2 linked regions of the Homo sapiens genome follow. The protein of the gene in region 2 purifies or fractionates together with the protein of the main gene of each other region. This does not show direct contact. Each region holds a gene or a part of one and is shown on either strand. Other genes may lie near its edges.

Region 1 (3,500 bases), on a different chromosome or scaffold from region 2:
ACCCCGAGGCACCCTCAGGTGGTATCCTGATGTGGGCAGCCTCCTCGTCACCACCGCGGCCCCTGGCCAAGCCCCAGCCTGGACCTGGGCCTTCCAGGAAGGATCTCTGGCCACCAGTGGCTCTCGTAGCGCATGACCTCAGGTGCCAGGAATGCGTGGTGCGGCGAAGCCACCATCTGGTTCCGATTACCCATGCTCTGCTCCAGGAACCTCATTCGCGTCTCTACTCCCAGCACCCGCCGGGGGGAGACTGATCTGGGCTCATCAGAGGCTTCGGCAGGAGGGTGTGAGGGGGACACAGCCGTGCCCACGTGGCTCTCAGCCAAGGAGTCACAGTGCAGGCGGTGGGTGAGGACACCTGTGGGTGCTGAGGACCTTCGGTCACCTTGCTTGCTCCCGGGTGGCAAGAACGCTCTCAGGCAGCTCACCTCCGAAAGCGCCCCCACAGGCTTTCCCTGAGGCTGGGGCTTTACAGAACCTGCAATCTCCAGGGCCTCTAGGATCAACGTTAAGATGTGACATTGGGCAGAGGGTGGCGCATCAGCCTCTCCGGCTCCCTGTCCCCTGTTCCTGGAGTCGCCTGTCCCCTCCCAGGCCTCCTCCTGGCCCATGCAACACAGGGCTCAGCAGGGGAAACGCCTCTCCTTCGATGTGCACCATGGGCCGATGCCCTGCCCAGCACGCCACAGCCACGCCAACCACTCCCTGTTCCTGGTTCTCCCTTCTGCTCTCACTTTCCAATTCATTAATACCTGGTCCCCCTTTTGCTTTAACTTTTCAATTCATCAATCCGGTCAAGTTCATCTCTGGACTGGAACATGCCCCATAAATTACAGTCCTAAGTTCCAGCAGCTGTTTCCCAAACACACCAGGAGAGACGAGGCAGATCTGGGCCAGGACGGCAGGAGGGCCCCTTCCTGGGGTCCTGGGCACAGAGGTGGAAACTGCAGAGAAGAGCCCTCCGGGGGCTCTCAGGGAAGCTGTCTGGGTCTTCAGCGCTTTGCTGTCAGGCTGGTGAAGGACAAGCCAGTGCCAAGTGAACACTGGACCCCATGGGGGCAGCCCTGCAGGATCCCTGCCAGGCTTGAGGAGGAGGGAGGGAGTGCAAGGGAGACGCCCCTTCCAGACATGCAGACCCAGCACCCAGAGTGGCTCTGCCTCCCAGCGCCCAGAGCAGCTCAGCTTCTAGCTGCTCAGAACGGGCATCATGATGATGACACATCCACCGACCACCCAGGCCTGCTAAGCCTTAGGAGACCCTTCCTCCCGGGGAGACATGAGAAGCTCTGCCGCTTACATCAGGGCCTTGTGCCCCCATCCCCAGGACAGCTGACGGATGGGTGAGGGATGGACACAGCTCTCCTGCAAGTCTACCATGTGCCTGCACAGGTTGGTGATGCCCACAGGGCACTGGGGCCGCTCACAGAACCCTGCCCCTCTGTGTATCCTAGTCTCACCAGGGCATGTCCTTCCGCAGCTCCACCATGTGCTTCAAAGACTCTGGTGGTGCCCACTCAGGGGTGGGCCTGACGGACCCGAGGTGAACCCTCCCCGCCCCACAGGGGCCAGGGCTGGGCAAGCGTGAGGCGCAGCAGGCTTGCTGGGGCTGCGGGCAAGTCTGCCCTGCCTGGGGGGCCCGAGGAATGCCCTCTCTGTGGCCTCCTGTCGTACAGACAGCCTGGACCACAGCCCTACAGAGAAGGGCAGCCCCGGGCCCTGTCCTTGGTGAGGCTGGGAGCTGTTGCTGCTTCTGCCAGTAGTCACCTCACGGGACATGCAGCTCCCCCTGGAGGCCCTTCACCCACTAGACTGGGCAATCTGACCACTCGCTGGCTATGGGTCTCAGGCTTCCAAGACTTCTGGTGAATGGGGGCTCCTTGTCCACCCCCCAGAAGCCAGGATGTACCCAGGCCACACCCAGCACCTCATCTCCCATGGTCTCTGCAGCCCCTGAGACTTGCACCAGAGTGAGACCTGGACAGGAGACTCCCCTTGCCCCCACCAGCCTGACCTGATCCCTCCCATCCCAAACAGGGCCACGTGTAGGCCAGGCCACCCTGGAGCCACAGGCCCAGACAGGGACACCACGGTGCCCCTCGAGCCATGCCAGCTAGGAGAGCCCAGGAGACACCATGGGAAGATCTTCAGCAACCGCCAGGTGGCCCTGAGGCTTCCCAGCCTTCCTGCTGGGCTTTCCTGCTGCCCGTGAGCAATGGCCTCCCTCGGGCCAGCTCCAGACCACCACGGGGGCTGCAGCTCCTCGCAGTTTTCCACACTGGTTTTTTTTTTTTTTTTTTGATTAATCAGTTCCTTACTGACCAAATTCCTCTGAGTTTTCACAAAGGGGTTTGAGTATTCCTGGACTCTGCGTGCCTTTCTCTAGATGGACAAGATGTGACGGCATGAACCCGAGGTCTGGGCGAAACCCAAACCATGTGAATGGTCTGCCAGCGCCCACGCCCCCTTCTTCCTGCGCCAGCCATGGACAGCCCCCCTGCACCCGCCTCCAAGTGATTAATTAGCCAGGGATCTGCAACAACTCCTCTTCATGCCTAAATATTGTTTCAGCCTATCAGACTGTTAGTGCAGAGCAGGATAAATGAGACCCGGGGCCTGGCGCACTGACCTGCAGGGCCTGCTGCCAGTCCAGGCTCCAGACAGCCAGCGCCTTCCCCGCGGAGCCTGAGATGCCCCTGGCCTTCTGGGAGTCAAAGTCAAGGTCCATGACGGGCTCCTCATGGCAGGCGATGCGGCTGCACACCTTCTGCTCAGAGACGTCCCACAGGACCACCGATCCATCCTCATAGCCGGCCAGAAGGAGTGGGCGGGAGCTGCAGTCGGCCTGCGGGGAACAGCAGAGCAGTCAGCTCCTGGAAGGACCCTGACTCCAGTGAGTTTCGGGGGAGAAGGGGCTCTGGAAATTCCTGCCCCTCCTGCTGGCTGGGGCTGTTTCCCATGTCTTCCACGTGGCTGCCACAGCTCAGAAGCTCTGCACCGCCAGTGCCCTCCCACACAGCCCCTGGATGGCTGATGCTGTCAGCATGGGACTGGCACGGCTGCCCTTAGGGCACCCCAAGGACATAGGGGTGGAGGGCAGAGAGCCAAGCCCAAGGCCTCCCACTGCTGTACCACTTCTCACCAGCCCTGCAACCTGCATGTGCCCACCCTGGGTTCTGCCCAAAGGGGTGATGCTGGGCACCCACCAGCCACTGTGAGTGCTGCCGACCCTCTCCACTTCTCCCATGCACAGGGACCTGTCCTCCTGCCTCCTTTCCCCAGGCCTAAGATGTGTGGCCACCACTTACTGGGGCTGGTCACCTGTCTAGAGCCGCCAGCCAGAAGAAACCGTGAGCTCCATCTCCATGAAAAATGAACTCTCTGTGCTTTGTCAAAGTGGCTGCCGAAGCCCCTGCCCCTGAAGCCTGGCGTGAGCCGCCCGAGCTCTTGTGATGAATGAGGGCGCGGGTCAGAGGGCTCCAAGCCCTGGGCAGACACCTCGT
Region 2 (2,988 bases):
CTACTAATTTGAAAGCCATAGAAGGCATTTCAGATTTCACAAGAAGGAGCTTAGGTGAGTATATTAGGACCCTGGTCAAAAAGCCAGGCTGCAATCACCTGCAGTTTTTGTTGATTAATTTACCTACATGGAGTAAGTAGGCCTCATCTGATGTAGGTAATCTTCAGCAAGGGGACCTCAGGTTTTATGAGACTGTTGCTGCAGACTGATTGTGTGTTGACTTAAGACAGTTGTTCCTTAAGCTCTTTTTCAATTTAGCCTGTTTTCTCTTTCCATATTGCTATTCATAATATTTGGGGTTTGATATGAAGGGATTCCGGCTATTCAGTGACTTGTATGCGTCTTGAAAAAGTAGATTCTTATGGCTAGGGAATTTTAAAGGTAAAGGAAGCTGCACCATAAAATTTCCTTCTTCAAATAAAGTAGATCTGAAATGTTGGCCTAGATATGCTCCCATCCCAGATTCCCGATTCACGTTTAATTTTCAGAAGCCCTTTGACTTTTAATTACTATACTAACAATCATGTGATGATCCTTGACCACAGTTTGACTAGGCAACATACAAAATAGGGAATGAAGGAGCTGCAGTCCTTAATCCCTGCAAGGTTATGGGGATATATTTATGTCTGGAGAAAGATGCTTCATGTATAATCTATGGCATATGCAATATATGCATAGATATATTCAAGGCATTTAGTTATAAATGTACAGGCTTTAATTCCTTCAGTCATTTGCTCCTTGTACCTTTATAGAGATAACAGCTTTTGGGTATCTCTATGCATGTACACGGAGAAAATGACTGTGTAAAATAGTTATTTTACATAGACTAAATTTACATTACTAAATTTTATGTAAAATGACAAGACTTTCAGAGGAGGTGCATTCAATTGAATGGCTTTGATTTGAAAGGGCTGCTTTTAAAAATCCTTTAGGCTTTGGACCTGGTCATCTCATTCAGCTTTTTCTTATTTATACTGTTGTTTTAAACCTACGCTAGCACGCAATTCTAGAATTACAATAACTTTAGGTATCCAGGCAAGATACCTAGTATGTTGTAGGAAGTGGGACTGTAAGAGGCTAGAAAGAGGTGGAAGGAGGCGGGGACTTGGCTTGTAGGCGTTGGCGGTGGTTGTTTTTTGTTTTTTGTTTTTTTGCTTTTTTAATATTGCTTCTAAATCCCTGAGTGACGTTAGAGGCACTGGTTTGATGTTTATGGGCCTAATGATTGCTGCATTTCTTGCAGGTGAAGATATGGTTTCAGAACAAACGCTCTAAGTTTAAGAAACTGCTGAAGCAGGGCAGTAATCCTCATGAGAGCGACCCCCTCCAGGGCTCGGCGGCCCTGTCGCCACGCTCGCCAGCGCTGCCTCCAGTCTGGGACGTTTCTGCCTCGGCCAAGGGTGTCAGTATGCCCCCCAACAGCTACATGCCTGGCTATTCTCACTGGTACTCCTCTCCACACCAGGACACGATGCAGAGACCACAGATGATGTGAGTTGCCCAAGGGAACACCCTAGGGAAACGTCTGAACAAGGAAAAGAGGATCCGGGACCTGCTTGTATCTGCGAAAAGGAGCCAAAGGAGCAGGCTTAGGAGAGCTCATAAGTGTGGCAAGAAGCCGACTAGGCTCATTCTCTCTCCCTCTCTCTCTCTCTCCCTCTCCTTTCTTTTTACTTCTTCCTTTCCTCCATTCCTTCTTTCTTTCCTTTTCCTTTCTACCTTTCTTTTCTTTTTGCCTTTCACCTTTTTTCTCATTTACCTTCTCTCTTGAGCAACGTCAGTAATTGATCTTGCATCTCAGAGAGAGAGAAAGAGCATGTGTGAGAGAGAAACTGGTTTCTATGCCAGCACTCCTGAAACCCCTTACTGTAAGGATATTTTCTCTTACCCCTTGGGATCCAGGCTCTGAGTCTCTTCTCTTTGGGAGTATCCATCAAAATGACTTTTTTTAAAAACAGATTTTCCCCCAACCAGAAGAATCTGCACAAACTTGGCAGCGTTTTTACTTGTTTAATGAGTTTAAGACATTACATGGTGAAAGAGAAGCATTTTGGACTCCTGCATTTTTATTTACCATTCCCAGACTGACGAGAAAAAGAAAATTCCTCACATAACAGCCCTTCTCTAAAGAAAAAGGAAAAAGTGGCTGTAAGATTAGAACATTGCTACAAAGGGAATGCTGCATGTTTTATCAAAATGCAATGACCAGGAATGATGGTTGATTAAAAAAAAACAAAACAAAAACCACTCTTTCCCCACCCCACCCCCCCAAACCCTGAACTGGAATCAGGAAAGACGGAGGAAACAATCAAAATCACCATTCTATTGCTTTGACACCTTTACTAGGTGAATTGGTGGCATTCACAAAGCTAATAGGGACGTTTATATCAAGAAACATTTCTGTATATATTGTTGAATTTTAGTTGTACATATACTTTGTATGTTTTTGTCTTCTTTCATATATGGAGTAAAAGCCACAAAACGCTGAGTGTCTTGTATATTTCTCTCTCTGTGTGTCTCTGTCCCTCTCTTTCCTCCCTCCTCCCTCACTTCCCTTCCCCCCATTAAATTTTCTATCACCCTTAAAAAAATTCCTATTTCCTAATATGGGAAGTCATATGTATATATATGAACATCAAGTGCCTGCAAAGATGTCAGTTTGCACACTAGCCTTTGTCTTAGGTAGTTTAACATTAACCATGGATGTTCTTTCAACTTTCTTTACATATTACGTTTTTATTGTAATTTCTACACATTTACCTATGTTTTAAACATTAGAATGACCTATCCTCAAGTTAACTTCTAGACATCACAGTAGTTTCTAGTGCTGAAACTGAGTATTCTCCTTTCCCTTTTCCCAGCCAAAATAATACAGCCATATTTGTCTTTGTTTGGATGCAGTTTTTTAAAATATAGGAAAGAAAAAAATAGAGAGTAGAGTGCACAATTATGCCTACTTAATGTTTAAAACCCATTGCCAGCTAGCTA

What was found. The genes of interacting proteins can lie anywhere in the genome.
Region 1: the proteins of DLX6 (region 2) and GNB1L purify together in Homo sapiens (affinity purification with mass spectrometry; one large-scale study listed by BioGRID and IntAct). This does not show direct contact.

What each region holds. Positions count from the first base shown.
Region 1 is NC_000022.11:19,799,375-19,802,874, forward strand, and holds part of GNB1L (guanine nucleotide-binding protein subunit beta-like protein 1), read right to left. Parts: intron 2,843-3,500; coding exon 2,627-2,842; intron 1-2,626. UniProt on the Homo sapiens protein: Acts as a critical regulator of DNA damage response (DDR) signaling via specifically regulating phosphatidylinositol 3-kinase-related protein kinase (PIKK) family proteins.
Region 2 is NC_000007.14:97,008,553-97,011,540, forward strand, and holds the end of DLX6 (homeobox protein DLX-6), read left to right. Parts: intron 1-1,243; coding exon 1,244-1,495; 3' UTR 1,496-2,488; downstream 2,489-2,988.